Linked DNA regions of Homo sapiens: region 2 is linked to region 1. The links come from fine-mapping of genetic effects on gene expression. A gene starts in region 1. The other region holds a variant in brackets. All regions are shown on one strand. Distances are from middle to middle.

Region 1 (4,251 bases):
GTCTGCCATGTTGTTGAAGCAAATGAATTATTTTTAAATGTTAAGTAAGTAAATAAACCTTAGCCCGTCTACTGTTTGGGAAGATCCTTCTGTGCTAGAGGGAGAAATAAAATTTCAACCTGTGTTCCTCAGCCCCTGAGGAAGCTATTAAGGGGATTCATTACAAGTACCTGAGCCTCCCTGCCTTATTGTAGCTGCCCTCTTTCCCAGAGGGTATTGTGGAGTGTGATGTGTCTTTATGTTGCTCTGCTACCCTAGGAAATCAGAATCGCGTTAGCAAGGCCAGTGGCCTGACCTCCACTGTAGAACCTGCCTGGCTTCCAGATTTGGGAGGAAGAAACCGCATTTACTAACCATCTCCATGTTCTTGCTACAGTTTTATTTGTTCTTCATACACACACAAAAAGGTCAACATAGATAGATGTCCTTATTTTGCAGATGAGGAAACTGGGGTATAAAGAAGTAACTTACCCAAAGTCACAAAGCTAGTGAGCAATAGAGCTAGGACCTGAACGCAGAGCTACCATCCAAGCTTCACTCTAGCCAACTCTCTAGAGTGCCAGCAGCAGCCACTTCTAATGCCCTGCAGCCTAATTTCTTAGTGTAGGAGGGGCGTTGCACCACACTGCTGTCCAGTCCCAGGACAGAACAGCACTGGCTCCTTGCATTCTCCTTTGAAAGATGCTTACGCCTTACAGTCTATCAGTGTTCTCTATCTCTGCTTAAAGCTAAAAGGGGGCCAGCCCTGGAATGCCATACACAAGCTGCTGACTGGCCTTGTAGCCTTCTGAGGTAGATGCTCACAAGCCCTGCGCTTCATATCCATGCATTCTGAATCCCAAAACCCTTCTCCCCAAAAAAGCTCCCAAACCATCCCCAAACACTCAAAAGCCAAGACTCCTCTAGAATCCACCAGAGCCCAAGCAAAAGAAATTGAGCAACAATCTGCCTAGAATGAAGCCTGCCATGGACTAGGTGACCTGCTGGTCCTCCCTGGCCTCCTGCCAGCAAGCAGCCCTGCTTCTCTTTGCATTTTAATGCCGAGGGAGCAAGGGAGCCTCTGCCATTGCCAACTAGAGCCTCTGGATACAATGGGAAGCCTGAGTGGGAGGGGGGCCAGCTCTTGGCATAAGAGAGCCAGTCTTCCTTCTCACTGTTTGAAATCCAGTGTGTGTTGGGGGAGGGGTAAGCAGGCTTATCCCCAGAGAAAACATCCTTTCCCACCAACACTGCACTAATAGCCCCCAGACCTCGAGTCACCACATCAGGCGTAATGTAGAGGGAGAGGTCAACCAAGCCAGCCCCTGGCCCCCATCCCACCCAGACCCCTGTGCTTTAGCACTAAGCAAACTATAGTGTGCTAGCCAGCCCTTCCCTGCTGATGCTGATGCTATAGTAACAGCATCTTTTCTATGTGTTCATCTTCCAAAAGCCTGTGACCCCAATATACTCTACACTCCTCAAAAGATTCTTGGAAAGAGACTCATATGCCTTAGGGACAAGGCAGCAGAAATGACACAAGTCCTGAATGAGCATCTCCTGTCTGGGGTGATGAGGGAAGGTGGGAGAACTGCTAGTGTCACCCAGGATCCACAAGGCCCATGGGGACCTCTGGTCCAGAAACGGCAACTTGCTATCCAGAGTTCAGGAAGTAGCTTGCAGCTTCTGTTGCCCAGGCTGGAGCACAGTAGCACAATCTCAACTCACTGCAGCCTCGACGTCCTGGGCTCAAGCAATCCTCCCACATCAGCCTCCCAAGTAGCTGGGACAAATGACCAAGGCTTGTCTTTGCTTTAAACCTGGCCTTGTGAGATGTCCCATGCAACTACCTAGTCTTTGGTAGGTGCACACCATCATGCCTGGCTAATTTTTGTATTTTTTGTAGAGACAGGGTTTCACCATGTTGGCCAGGCTGGTCTTGAACTCCTGACCTCAGGTGATCCACCCGCCTCGGCCTCCCAAAGTGTTGGGGTTACAGGTGTAAGACACCGCGCCAGGCTGCAGCTTCTTATACATGCACCTTGCTGAATTAGAAGTAGGAGCTCAATAGGGGAGGGAGCCTAATGAATCAAGGCTGTATTTCCAGGGAGCTTGAGACTTGATGTTAGGCTTACACACACGCACACACACACACACACACACGCCTTTCCAGTGGGCTGGCTGGGCCTCTTCTCCTCACTGCCAAGTTGCAAAGTTGTGTGGTCACCTCCCCCCCCCACACACACCAGCTTCCCGCCAGCCTGTGCCCTCAGCCCTCGCCTCCCTGAGCCAGGACAAAGCCCCGGCAGTGACTGGGAGGGGAACAGGAGGAGGGACAGAGGGATGGGAAAGCCTGCACAAAGGAATTCCTCACCCCAAGCCCCCTGACCGCCAGCGAGTAAAGAAGCAGATTTGCTCTCCCTCCCGCTTCCTCCCTCCCATCTTCCCACCCGGGCTGTGCCCAGGCCACAGAGCAGCTGCAGGCCTTGGGAGAGGACCCACACAGCCTCCTGTAGGTGGCAACAGTGCCACCTGTTTGACTCATAGGGCTGAACCGAGGACTGAAAAAGGGAGGAGGCAGACCACTCGGAGAGGAGCTGGGAAGCAGTGCAGAGAGGAGAGCGGAGCGGAGCTGCCGCTGAGCAAAGGTGTGAGGGTTCGGGAAGGCTGGGGGGCTACAGGTGGGAGCTGTGGAGCAGAGACCAGCTCCATCCCACTGGGATTGGGCCGGGGGATTGAATGGCACCCCTGTCAGCAACCCTACTTGGGGTTTTCAGGCTGCTCAGACCCTGATCCCATCCTACAGGCAGCTCCTGAAGGGAGGGGACTCTGGAAGGCAGTGTCTGGGGTGCAGGGGTAGGACCCCAGGGGAGGCAAGAGCTTAGAGCAGGCTATCAAACCAGCTCCAAGATGGGCAGAGGCAAGGGCTTCCCTTTGGGTTGGCTTTTTACCGGGAAGGGTCTCGTAGAGGGGAGGGGTTTCCTTCCCCCAGCTCCAGCTCCTCACCCCTACCCTAACCCTCCTTTCCCAAGGCAGCATAAAGAGGGCAGTTCAGAAGCAGCCACACCTTCCTGCTTACCGGACCCACCCACTGTGCACCCCTCTAAGACTCCATAGCCTCGGGAGAGCTCTGAGGACAAGAGGTCCTGTCCCTCAGCCCGCACGCACACATGCTCACACACTTTGGGTGTATCCAGGGGCTCCTTTACATACTCAAAGTCACCTAAAATCATATTGTACCGACAGCCAGTTGTGCTGTCGCGTGCAAATGCTGACACAAATCACATACCGTCTCGCGTAGAATCAGTCACGTACCCAGCCAAGTCTGGGGATCAGCTCAGTCAGCCAAACCCAGAAGCATAAGGTACAGGGGTCCCCTGCCCCAAGACAACCACACCCCGCATACACACCTTTGCCCTGCGTTTGTTGTACTTTCACCAAAGCTAACTTAGAGGGTGGGGCTCCTAAAGGCGAGTCTGGGCTTCTGGTTGGGGTTGGGGGATGACTGGGCAGGAAAGGGCAGGACTTGAGGGGAGGCTCTGTATTTTGAAAATCCAAAGATTCCTTTAGAAGACTGGGAGTGACCCAGGCAACATGTTCACCTCAAGTCTTTCTCTTTTTGGCAGTGCCCTTTGTCCCCTGAGAGGTGGACACAGAGAATCTTTCAGGGATTTGTGATCTGAATAATCTCTATAACCATAGCAACTGGCCAACTAGCTGGGCCTTCCTTAGCCCCAGGTCAGAACTGTAACCTTTGCTTCAGGTTACTCCTGCTTCCTGGGCTGGAAAGCAATTCAACATGGGGTTGCCTCCAGCTTGGCCAAACCTGCTTTAACTTGCTGAACTGAGTTTGTCCCACCCTGGGCAGTTTCTCTTGAGTTCTTACCCCCAGGGCAAGCACTCCATCCCCAGAGGTGTGTGCTGTTAAATGGGGAGGAGCTGGAGAGAGTGGATATGAATCCTGCCCGAAAAGAGGCTGGACCTCTTGGGTGTCCCACTGACTCTCCAGGTAACAAGATTAAAGGGAAACGAAGGCTCTGGAGACTGTCTCCCATTGCCAGGCTTGCAGCTGGGGCTGCTCGCCTCATCCACTCTGGCACTCTGGGCCTGCCCCGTGACCTCCGTTGCTGAGCAGCGGCCCAGGCCTCTGCCTCTCCCCCGGGCTCCTCAGATACACTAGGAGGGAGACTGGGATCTGCCCTCTGCCAGGGTCCCTGATGGTCGAGTGTCCCTTCCCCCAGGCCTTCACCATGGCCGAGTCCCCCGGCTGCT
Region 2 (4,251 bases), 22 kb after region 1:
TTGTTTTAACATTGATGAGGGGGAAAAAAAAACAACTAAAACGATTCCTGGCCAGAGCCACTGTCTGTGTGGAGTTTGCACACTCTCCCCATGTATGTGTGGGTTTTCTCGGGTATTCCAGGGTACTGCGCTTCCTCCCACATCCCAGTGCACGTTAGGTGAATTGGCGTGTCTAAATTGTCCCAGTGTGAGTGAGTGTGGGTGTGTATGTGAGCGCACCCTGTGATGGAATGGCATCCTGTCCAGGATTGGTTCCTGCCCTGTACCCTGAGCTGCTGTGATAGGCTGTGGCCACCCTTGACCCTGAACTGAAATAAGCAGATTGAAAAATGAATGAATGGATGGATGGATGGATGGATGGATGGATACAAAGTACTGTAAAATAAAAATTTGTCAAGTAGTTGATAATCATACAAATGCACAATAAACTATGAGGTAAGAAAGTGCTCATCGAGCTCACCATATTCGTGATTGTTTGCTTTTGAACTGCATGGTGGTAGGGAGGTGCTCCTTACAATTTTCGCTTTGCATACATTTATTCCTTGATTCAACCCACCACCACTTCCACTGCTGTCACTCACTGGTTCACCAAAGGTTAGGTAATTATTTACTTGTTTTCATTAATCTTTCTATATGTATGCATAGCTCATATTTATTTCAATGTTCAATATCAGAAGTGTTTTGGGTCTTTATTTGGAAGCTGGGTGATGTTTTGTGACCAGAAATATGCTGTAGGAACTTAGCTCTTGTTTATATTAATTAGCCTGTGGTAAAATTGGTTTTGTTATACGTTGTTTCACTTAGTCCCAGTTGCCAAGGACCTACCAATGATGTTAAATGAGGACCTACTGTACTACATAATTCACTTATTTATTGTGTTTATTTTTGTCTGTGTCCTCTCACTAGGAGGTAAGCTCCCCAAGGGCAGGGATTTGTTCTGTTTGTTCTGTTTTATTTTGTTTCCTGCTATATCCCCAAATCCTACAACAGTGTCTGGCACACAGCAAGTGTTCCACGCATATTTGTTGAATTAAGAATGAATCTCTGAGGGCCGGGCACAGTGGATCACACCTGCAATCCCAGCACTTTGGGAGGCCAAGGTGGGTGGATCACTTGACGTCGGGAGTTCGAGACCAGCCTGGCCAACGTGATGAAACCCCATCTCTACTAAGAAAATACAAAAATTAGCCGGGCGTGGTGGCAGGAGCCTGTAGTCCTAGCTACTAGGGAGACTGAGAGGCAGGAGAATCGTTTGAACCTGGGAAGCTGAGGTTGCAGTGAGCTGAGATCACGCCACTGCACTCCAGCCTGGGTGACAGAATGAGAATCCATCTCAAAAAAAAAAAAAAAAAAAAAAAAGAACCTCTGTATCCCTAATACCTAGGTCAAGGTCTTGCACAGAGCAGGTGCTCAATGAATATTTGCTGAATTGAACTGAGATGTAAATTCTGCAGGAGAACTTAGAATAGACCTGTCGTACTAGAGTGGTTCACAGCGTGGACTCTGGAGTCAAATAATCAGGATTTGCATCCTGATTCTGTCACTTCCAGCTGTGTTACCTAGCTGTGTTAACATCTTTGAGCCTCAATTTCTCATTGGTAAAATGAAGATAATAATAGCATCAGCTTGGTAGGATTTGGGTTTGCGTGTTATGCACTTAGGACTTTGTAAAGACCCAATAATTGGTAGCTAAAAACAAAACAAGAACTGCAAAAAAGATAGTCTTTCTTGTATGTCATCCTTCCTCCATTCCCCCGACAAGCTGAGCCAGGAGAGGGTAAGGAGATGTCCTTGGACAAGTATTCCTAAGCTCTATTCCAGACCCATAGAAGGGTTTCTCTCTCTTCAAATCCCTTCTTACCTTTTCACCTGTCCTGGACTTTCATCTTGATATCCTGAAGTTCCTTCCCCCATCATAACCATGCAGGGGTGGAGTGGAGGAGATAGGGGTTTGTGGGCCAGGGACAAGGACTTAGAGCTTTCTGTTAATCCCTGTTCTAGGGTTGAGTTCTTTACTGGTGATGGTAGAAGGTCAAGTGTGAGGTCACAGTAATTTCAGGGCCTAGAGACTGAGAGAACAATAGTCTTGTGTAGGAGGCATTGACAGGACAGCGGGCCTCATATGCTGCCTTCTTCTTTGGTCCCCTGTAAGAGAAAGCACCTCCCTCACCCTGCTCCAACGTCCTTTCTGTCCATCCTGCTACCTCGTCTTTACTTCTGGTGGCCCCAGCTCAGAGCAAGCCTGGGGACCCATTGAACATCTCCCTGCAACTCCCTCTTGGAAGTGGGGTGGGGTGGAGTGGGCAGAGGACAGGCTAAAACTGGCGATATAAGGGCACAAGATCGGGTGCCTGAGCTTTCTGGTGGCCCACGTCCTCTGCCCCCGCCCTTAG[A/G]GCCAACAGTTCCCTAGAGATTGGGGGAGCTGGGGCTGAGCCTGGGGGCGCCGCTGCCTCTGTTCCTTTAAGTAGCCGCTGTTTAGCATTCCTGCCGCCGCCGCTGCCGCTGCCGCTGCCTGCCTCTGCGCGCTGATTGGCTGGAATCAACTGAGAAGGGAGCCAGGGAGAGATGCTCTTGACTCCACTCAGATCCATCCTGGGGACCAGAGCAGAAGCGGTCCTCACAGCACCCATTCTCTGCTTGAGCTCCCGCTTCTTCTTTGCCGCTGGGCCTCGGCCCAGAAGCCACGACGGGCGACACGGAGCCGCCAGTGCTGGAGGGGGAGCCGTGGGTGCGGGGCAGCGTGGGGGCCGAGGCCCCGGGACGCCCGCCCGGCCCCAGGCCCCGCTCAGCCCGGGCGCCCCCACGGGTGCCCCCCCCTTCTTGGTCCGAGCAGTGTGAGTGTGCCAGGGAGCCCGGCGGCGGCGGCGGCGGTGGTGGCGGCGGTGGCGGCGGCGTGGAATCCGGCGTGGGCTGGGGGGTCCGAGCCGCGGGGGGCAGTGCCATGCACAAGCACCAGCACTGCTGTAAGTGCCCTGAGTGCTATGAGGTGACCCGCCTGGCCGCCCTGCGGCGCCTCGAGCCTCCGGGCTACGGCGACTGGCAAGTCCCCGACCCTTACGGGCCAGGTGGGGGCAACGGCGCCAGCGCGGGTTATGGGGGCTACAGCTCGCAGACCTTGCCCTCGCAGGCGGGGGCCACCCCCACCCCTCGCACCAAGGCCAAGCTCATCCCCACCGGCCGGGATGTGGGGCCGGTGCCTCCTAAGCCAGTCCCGGGCAAGAGCACCCCCAAACTCAACGGCAGCGGCCCCAGCTGGTGGCCAGAGTGCACCTGTACCAACCGGGACTGGTATGAGCAGGTATGGACCAGCGGAGGGGGGAGCGGTGGGGCAACCCAGGAGGGCTGGAGAGTGGGGGCCTAGAGGCCTGGGATGCAGTAGGGGTCGCTGGGGCTCCAAGCCTGTGGACCCCGAGCCCTAGCATTGCAGCTGGGCAAAGAGAGGCGGTGGGAAATGTGTGGTTCCCTGTGTGTGTCTGTTTGGGGGTCTCCATTAGAAGACTGGGAGGAGCCGTGTGTCAGGGGGTAAGGGCATGGCGGAGGGGCACATTTTCCTGTGTGGGGGAATTGGGTTTGTCTCAGTGTGGGGGTTTGGCAATGTCTCTGTGTCTGGCAGGGGGCGGGAGGTTCTGCGGGGGCTGTGTGTGGTGTGTGTCTCCACCGGAGGGGAGGGGAGGGGGCATGGTGCTCTGCGTAGGGGGGACATATGTGTGTGTATGTATGTTGGGGTGTGTGGAGGAAGGCAATGGAGCTGCCGTGAATCCGTGTGGAGGAGCCCATGTGCCCGGCTCGCTGAGCTTCATCCCTTGATGCCATGAGTCCCTCTCCGTCCCAGTCCCTTTGTGTGTGAATGTGCACATGGATGTGTGGAGATGTCACTCTGAATGTGGAGAGGTCTCTGTAGAGGAGGCTGCAGGGATGGCTGTGTTTGTGTGTGTGGCTACATGTATATGTGTGTGAGCATGTGGCTGCAAGAGTGTGCACGCGTGTGCCTGGTGTGTGTGTGTGAGTGTGTGTTTGTATGTGTTGTCTCTGGTGAGAGGCGCTTGACAGGCAAGGGAGGGGAGAGGAAGGAGGCGAGAGACATGTCCCAAGCAAGGCTGAGAGGCTGCTGAGAAGGACGGACTCTTTTGTCCAAGCAGCTCTGTAGTGTGTGTGCCGGGGTGGGGTGGCGGGGGGCGGGGGGAGATTTGAAGGAACTGAAGCAAGCCTCCTCGCTCTAGAGCAGGCATGGTGCCTGGAGCCGGCAAGGGG

Direction of the effects. Positions count from the first base shown, and alleles are read on the strand shown. Sizes are in standard deviations (SD) of each study's normalised expression.
For the expression in visceral fat of the gene that starts at base 2,559 in region 1, allele A in region 2 goes with a higher level than allele G (small effect, 0.19 SD a copy in GTEx).

The links. PIP is the estimated chance that this variant, and not a neighbour inherited with it, causes the effect. A credible set is the group of variants that fine-mapping cannot tell apart.
Region 2: its variant is the best candidate, but not a certain one, in a credible set for the expression of GDPD2 in visceral fat (GTEx, PIP 0.81).

Annotation. Positions count from the first base shown.
Region 1 is chrX:70,420,756-70,425,006 of GRCh38, forward strand. It overlaps GDPD2 (glycerophosphodiester phosphodiesterase domain containing 2), which reads left to right and starts at 2,559. Exons shown (of 16, transcript NM_017711.4): 1 at 2,559-2,627; 2 at 4,221-4,251. The coding sequence starts at 4,230. KIF4A (kinesin family member 4A) reads left to right here. Exons shown (of 31, transcript NM_012310.5): 31 at 1-131. RefSeq lists enhancers at 1,525-2,513, 2,514-3,502.
Region 2 is chrX:70,442,261-70,446,511 of GRCh38, forward strand. DLG3 (discs large MAGUK scaffold protein 3) reads left to right here and starts at 2,575. Exons shown (of 19, transcript NM_021120.4): 1 at 2,575-3,298. The coding sequence starts at 2,942. RefSeq lists an enhancer at 2,093-2,879. The variant A/G (reference allele first, on the strand shown) is at 2,394.